Linked DNA regions of Homo sapiens. The protein of the gene in region 2 interacts with the protein of the main gene of each other region in a pairwise test. Each region holds a gene or a part of one and is shown on either strand. Other genes may lie near its edges. The genes, in order: RAB35 and GNPAT.

Region 1 (3,808 bases), on a different chromosome or scaffold from region 2:
GGCAGGAAAAGCATGGAAGCCACACAAGCATCCAGGGATGGCTGGGGAGAGGGCGCCCAGCAAAGCCATCACCCCAAACATGCAGAGCCCAGGGCCAGCCAGGAAGGCCAGAAGGAAGGGGAGGCCCAACTCTCCTCTCCAGACCCCATGTCCCCATTCATCCCAGTGGCACAGGACGACATCAATCCCCGGAGGAGGAGGGGGACCACAGCCTCCGCTTCCCCGAGAGCTGTCGAAGAGCCGGAGGCCAGGCGGCAGCCCCGCCCCACACTGTGCAATCAGCCAGAGCTGTCCCTCTGTCCCCTCTCCCCAAAGCCGCAGGGACCTCCACCCCAGGGCTCCTCAGGACAGCACACAGACAAACCATGAGTGGACAGGCCGCTTCCTCCCGGCTTTCTGGCTGCCACCTGCCCCAGCCCTAATTACCTCCACCCCCATGAGGTTCATGGGGACAGCCCAAGCCCCAGTTCAGGAACAGCCCAAGTCAGCGCAGGCTGAGCAAGAATGGGGCAGCCAGGCTGACTTGTGGCTGCAGCTCCATTCCTGTCCACCTGCCCATCAGCTCTCTGGCCAATGCTTCACATCTGAGGCCCGATCTAAGGACAAAGACCAACCCTGGCTCCATCTCTGAAAGGCTGGCCCTTGGGAAGGTGCCTGCATTCACCCTGCCACACCTTGCAGCTTCAACAGTTATAGCACACAGGTGGCTAGTCCTTAACTGGGGTGGTCATGAGGAAGAAAGGAGCTAAGCATTACCCCAAGGCGGGGGAGCAGTAAACAGTCAGTATGCGTTCTTCAGCATCATCAATGTGCCTTCAAGGACAATCTGTGGTCCCAGACAGAGGTGGTGGAAGGAAACCAACAGGCAGCTTAGGGGCAGCCCTGAGCATCTTCCCTGATGCTGCAGAGCCAGAGCTCCTGCCCAGCCCTGGGACAAAGCCCAACCTGCCCCTGCCACCGCCCCTGCCCCATCCTTGCTCCATCCTCAACACGACCGCTGGGATCTCTTCCCAGGGCTTCATTCTGCCCACAGCTTTGCTTCCAGGGCAGCGTCGCTCCTTGGCTTCGGGGTAGCTGTGACGATCAAGCTCTCTTGGCACTGGGCCCAAGAACTAGCTCTGGCCTTGGCAGCTGCTGCTGAGAGCGCCGGGTCAGCACATGGCATGGTGTGTCAGACGCCTTCCAGAGCGAGGGCGCGCCGGAGCCACAGGAACAGGCGACTGTCCCCTGCCAGCAGAGGAAGCCCAAGGAGCGGATGGCTCTGCAGACTCTCCTTTGCTGAAGATGATCAGAGATGCCAAGAAACGCCTGCAGCCATGGCCCCGGCGCACAGCCCCCGCGGCTCCCTGGGCGCCTCTGCCTCATCCGGGGCCCAGGAAAGGGGCTTTATCTGAGAGCAGAGAATTTGTCTGGGGATGAAGTCAGGGGCTCAGAGCTCTGGCTAGGAGGAACCGGAGCACCGACGTTTCCCATGGCCACCAGGAATCACCTTCACTCACAGGGACTCTGCTCTAGGCCAGGCACAGAGCTGGGGGCTTGGTATCCATTACCTTATTAATGTCTGCAGCCACCTGATCCAGCAGACCTCAGGATGGCCATGTGACCAGCAAGGACGTGAGGCTGAGTGCAGCGGCCAGCTGGAAGTCCTGGCGCCCAGGGCTGACTCCCAGGCCCAACGCCAGGGCCTTGCCTTCCTTGTCACTTCTCCCCTCACCTCCATCCCACCCGCACCTCTCAGGGCCGGCAAACCTCAGCTTCTGAGAGCAAGAACCCGAGAAGGGGTGACCACAAGGCTTTTTCTCGCCAGGCTAACAGGATGCAGTTTCAGTTTCTCTCTGAACGCCCTGCATCGGAAAAAAGTCACGCTACTGCATCCTGACTGCCCTATTCCTGAAAACTCCTCACCTCCCCAAAACTCCTTCCTTCTTTGCCAGTGACCATCAAAGGGCGTCGAGACTTCCAGTGGCCCCTCAGGGCGCCCTGCTGGGCCTCCTGCCTCATGAGGGCCAGAGCGGGACTCTAAGATGGAGCCACCTGTCTGCTTCCCCAGACACGTGGGACGGCAGCAGGGGCCCAGCCGCTGCCCACAGGCCGCCCCTTCCCAAGCCCCTGGGGAAAAACCCATGTTGCTCCCAGGAAGCTGAGTGACTCCTCCCCGCCTCCCCACGGAATGGAGGAACCAGTTCACCTTCTTCCCGCTCTGCCCAGCCCAGAAAGCAGCTGACTGCATGATGGCAGGGAGGGGCTGTGGCTCCTCCTGCTGAAAGAGCCTCGGACCCCCCAGGCCCCACTGCCCTGCCCAGGAGTTCATTCCTCATGGCCACGGGCCTCTGAACCTCTGCCACCCTGAACCTCCGCCTGGTTTTAAGGCACAGGACGGGGCAGGAAGGCAGGGGCGCCACCTGCCCAGTCGATGCAGGGCCTCGGCAGACTCAGGGCCAACCCTGAGTGCCCCCAACCTCTGCCCCACTGAGTTAGGAGGCTTCATCCTCCCTGGGCCTGTTTTCCTGTCCATAAAATGGAGATAGTCACAGGTCTCTCTACCGGGATTAACCAAAATAAAGCAGCTGAAATCCTAGCGACAGGACCAACCCAGAGCAAGGATTCATGAGGTCAGCGCCCAGACCAGCCAACGGCATGAGGGCTTGCCTCGCCTGGGCCTGCAGCCCCAGGCTGCCCAAAGCACTGATGCCAGCCCTGCCCCAGTGTCCTCCGCAGATTCTCACTGGCAGCTGCCAAGACATGCAGGCCACAGAGCCCTCGCTCACAGGGCTCATCAACGGTCACCACACAGCACCACACCAGGGCGACCCCGGGACTGGGAGCTCCCAGGGATTCCGGGCATCACGGGCCACAGCACAAATGTGCTCAGCATAGGGTGAACCCAGTGACAAGCCCTCCGCCTTGGCTCCAGCCCCAGGAGCTGCTCGCCCAGCACACCTGTCCCTCTCCAGCAGCCCTGCTCTCCCCCATACTCCCAGCCATCCATGGGGGCGCTGCACCCCACACTTCCCACCCTCGGGAGATGCCGAGGGGCCCGGGGGCAGGGGCAGCCAGCCTGGGGAGTGCCGGGCTTTCATGCTGTGGGAAGGAAGGGGGCCGCTGGCTGGGACTTCCTCATTCGCCTTCCTGAGGTCACTTCCAGAGGAGCTGCTCGAGAGAGCCAAGGAGGTGCCCGTGGAGCCAGACAGCCGCCCCTCACTCTGCACAGGCCACTGTGTGGAGCACAGGCTTGGCCGCTGGGAGGGACCCCTCCAGGGCGCCCTCTGTCAAATGGGATGACAGCAGCACCAAGCACACAGAGCTGCCAGACACCACACCCCGGCACGCACGTTGACGCCTGCAGCAGAGCACCTGGCACCCTCCACATGGAAGCCAATCCCAGAGGCAGGCCCTCCAGGAAACGAGCGCAGAGAGCTTCGGCAACTTGCCTAAGGACACACAGCCCAACAGCTCCAAATCGGCCCCTTCAGACCCTGCTCTTTCCTAAAACCTGCTCCACTAACAACCCAATAACCAGGAGCCGCTCCGAAGGACACTGCCCATCTGCGCAGGAGCCCAGCTTCCCCCCGGCCTGCAGCTCAGCCACAAAGGTGGGCAACCGGTGGGCGGCCGGATTTCCCAGGAACAGCTTTAAGGGTAGGGAAGGGCCTGCTGACATGCACCGTGTTCGTCTCTAGACAGCGTCACTTCCAAGGCATCAGTGCAGGTGACGGGAGCCTGCACAGGCCAACTCCAGCTGCCATAACTGACACCTACCAAGAGGAATTGTCAGCGACTAAGTCCTGGGTGGGCAAGGCACTTCGCA
Region 2 (3,808 bases):
GTATTCAGTATTGGGTTGATCAAAGAACAGTAGGTACTTGACTTCAAATAATTATCTGGTCTTTAAAAAAAAACGCATTTCCAACTGTAGCCTGTACAATTTTTTTTTTTTTTTGAGACGGAATCTCGCTCTATCACCCAGGCTGGAGTGCAGTGGCGCAATCTTGGCTCACTGCAATCTCTGCCTCCCAGGTTCAAGCAATTTTCCTGCCTCAGCCTCCCGAGTAGCTGGGATTACAGGTGCACGCCACCATGCCCGGCTAATTTTTGTGTTTTTAGTAGAGACGGAGTTTCACCATGTTGGTCAGGCTGGTCTGGAACTGCTGACCTCGTGATCCGCCCGCCTCAGCCTCCCAAAGTGCTGGGATTACAGGTGTGAGCCACCACGCCCGGCCTTTTTTTTTTTTTTTTGGAGATGGGGTCTCACTATGTTACTGAGGCTGGTCTCGAACTCCTGGGCTCAAGTGATCCTCCCACCTCAGCCTCCCAAGTAGCTGGGATTATAGGTGTGTACCACCATGCCTGGCTAGGATTCATGACTTTATTTTCCACCGTACTAGGTGCCAAGGAAATGGTATTCTAGTCCTCAAGATATTCAGAGTCTCGTAGTGGGAAATGACATGTAAACAATTATTCTCAAATAATCAACGTGCTGTGTTCACTGTGTCCTATAGTGATAAAAACAGATTTGGTGTCCTTTCTCTTTTTCTTTCTTTTTTGAGACAGAGTCTCGCTCTGTTGCCTAGCTGGAGTGCAGTGGCACAATCTCGGCTCACTGCAAGCTCCGCCTCCTGGGTTCATGCCATTCTCCTGCCTCAGCCTCCCGAGTAGCTGGGACTACAGGCGCCTACCACCACGCCTGGTTAATTTTTTCTATTTTTTAGTAGAGACGGGGTTTCACCGCGTTAGCCAGGATGGTCTCAATCTCCTGACCTCGTGATCCACCTGCCTTGGCCTCCCAAAGTGCTGGGATTACAGGTGTGAACCACCGCGCCCGGCCTGTCCTTTCTCTTTCTGAGCAATCCTTTGCTCAAGTCCTCTATAGATTTTTCAGGTCCAGGTTTTAACTCTTCCAAATTAAGCAAGCATTCTCAACACATATGTCCTACCTACATACCAGGCCAAATGAGAAACCCTCCAAATGCCTGGGTTAAGCCTTTTAGCCATAAAGTCTTTTCCACCAGAGCATCAAAGTCCATGGATGGCCGGTTCTGAAGCAGAACAGCAACTATTAGGGTCCAGGGGCTCAAAACCATGTTTTCAATTTGCAGAAGCTCCATTTTGTAGGCAACTTCAGTGACAAAGGCATGCATGTCCTCAGACTGTTTCTGAGGAATGTATCTAAAAGGAAGAGCACAGAGCAACAAATTACAGTTCTGTTACTTAGACAAATGGGGATGGAAAAAGACTCTAGACGTTTTAGAAGGCTTCTCATACTTTGTGCCAACTGAATTCTCTCAGGTCAGGTGCAAACAGTATTCCTTTGCTTTACTATAGTGTAATCTGACCATACATTTCTGGAATATCCTCTTGAGAGATGGTAAAAATACTGAAGGGGTCCAGGGTCCTATTATTCCTGGTTCCAGGCAAAAAACTTTTGTTGCTTCCTAAATAGGATACATCGTTTCTCTGAGAATGGATGCCTGCCCCAGTAGACTAAATTACTATCTTTTCAGAATGCATAGCACGCTGAACATATCTCCATTGTAGAACACACTTAACAGATTATATAATAACTATTTTATACTGAATGGGTGCCATTCAGTTTGTCTGACTTCATGCATGGATTACCAAACTTTGAATAGTACAATAAGGCCTGCACAGAGCTGGCTGGAGCAGAGATACACACATGACCTAAAAATTGCCACACAGGTGGCTTAATGTGAAAGATGCAGCCAGTAAGGGTGCCCTGTACTAGGTAATAGCCAGCCAAACCAATTTGAGATCTAAAGAGAGAGCCTGTGTCAGGAAAAAAACTAACATAAGCGTCTGTGATGACTAATGTAGCTGCTGGGAAACTGCTAAAGCTACAGATAAGTTACAAATGATGTTGCAGCACATGAGGCCTGGAGGGGCAGATGGTTTGTCTCCCTTACTTGTCCAGGTATATTTCTCCTAATTAAGAAAACTCAAATGTGTATCTGTGTTCTTTATCCTGAAAGAACCTAATATATTTTCTTGCCTATAAAACTATAACTCTCTAGAGACTAAGGACTCACTCCCATTCATTACCATTATGCAATCCTTTCTAGGGTCAAAAATAATAGTACATACTTTGGCTAGCTTACCAATAGTGCTCAACAATTCCTGCACATATACTTGTTAATAATGGCATTATTTATTCCCACTTTAGTTCCCTTGAGAAACATGATCATTGTCTGATTTTGCATATTTGACATACATATCTCACAGCTTATCTTTTTTTGGGACAAACACATAATTCTTCTTTAATTGAAGGTTTCCACTGATGAAAACGGAATGATAACAGCATTTCTGATCATTTTCTCTGTAATCTTAAGTAAATCAAGAGAAGTGGTCAACTCCAGCATTGCAACTCACACCTTTGGATTTTAATCCTCATTTCTAAGACAGTTATTAAAACACAGGTCACACCTTGGAACCAAGTTATATGAGCTCCGACTCATCCTCCCAGCTGCCAAAGATCGAAGTGACACAGGATCTCCAAAGTACACATGGATGCTTCCAAAATTTTCAGAGAGAATCTTTCTGGCTTTCAGCAACCCCTAATAGTACCATAACAGGGGGGGAAGAAAACGAAAAGCAGTAAATTTAGAAATTAGTTGATGTGTCAGTCAGCACATTCTCTCAATTAAGCTAAAATCAAGCTCACGTACAGTTGTAGACTCTTTTGGTTTAGGAACCCCTAGAAGCTCATACACATAAAGAGTTTCTTCCAAGATCTTATCATAACTGATACTAATTGGGACAAGGTAGGTATCAAAAACTTCTCTTTTAAAAAATGGCTCCATCACAATATTCAGAAGACCTGCAAAACACAGGGAGAAATGCTTCATCAACATATTGAAGAGCAGAGCAAACATGAGCACATAAACGGAAAATACTAAAAGCATACATTATACACTAATCCCGTAAATATCAACAGTTATACATTTACACTTGAAAAGAATATCTTGTTAAATAAAGCGTCAAGTTTTATGTAGCAGCTGATGTCTTTGGGTTTGTATTTTTCCTTTTAATCTGTAGTGACCTACCAAATTTAGGAGTCAATGTCTTGGCAGAGCGGCTTCTTGTCCCTTCGAGGAAAAATTCAACAGGAGCATAACCATTCTTTAAAGAGAAAACAAACAAAACACAAAACCCATTGCCTACTCTCAAAATGATAAATGCTTCTTTTGATTCCTTTTCCCAAGCTCCCTCCCAAGCTTCCTGAACAAACACAGCTTACAGTGAAAATTAAACAAGAGAGTCACACAGATTAAACCAATTGCTGAGGTTATAAGCAGTTCTTGAGGGAAAGCAAAATAGCTAAGTGTTCTATTCAGAAGTTAAGAGTTTAAATGAGCAAACATCAGTGAAGAAAATATGGCTTAAGAGTAGTTGGGAATTATTTGCATTTACCCGTAACATAGTTTTTACATATTCAGAGAATACAGCCCAGTAGAGTTTATTGCCACCAAAGGTACGCCGCATGAAAAAGGCACCCGACATTCGTAGCAGCTCACCAACCATTTTCATTCCCAGGAAGTCTAAAAAAGAGGGGATAATATTTATTTGCAGATCTTGAAATCTTCTATAAAGATCTAAACTTAAACATGCTTATTTTTCAT

The links.
Region 1: the proteins of GNPAT (region 2) and RAB35 interact in a two-hybrid assay, tested with the Homo sapiens proteins (one large-scale study listed by IntAct).

Annotation. Positions count from the first base shown.
Region 1 is NC_000012.12:120,099,683-120,103,490, forward strand, and holds part of RAB35 (ras-related protein Rab-35), read right to left. Parts: intron 1-3,808. UniProt on the Homo sapiens protein: The small GTPases Rab are key regulators of intracellular membrane trafficking, from the formation of transport vesicles to their fusion with membranes.
Region 2 is NC_000001.11:231,265,212-231,269,019, reverse strand, and holds part of GNPAT (dihydroxyacetone phosphate acyltransferase), read right to left. Parts: intron 3,728-3,808; coding exon 3,600-3,727; intron 3,309-3,599; coding exon 3,233-3,308; intron 3,007-3,232; coding exon 2,855-3,006; intron 2,744-2,854; coding exon 2,613-2,743; intron 1,341-2,612; coding exon 1,117-1,340; intron 1-1,116. UniProt on the Homo sapiens protein: Dihydroxyacetonephosphate acyltransferase catalyzing the first step in the biosynthesis of plasmalogens, a subset of phospholipids that differ from other glycerolipids by having an alkyl chain attached through a vinyl ether linkage at the sn-1 position of the glycerol backbone, and which unique physical properties have an impact on various aspects of cell signaling and membrane biology.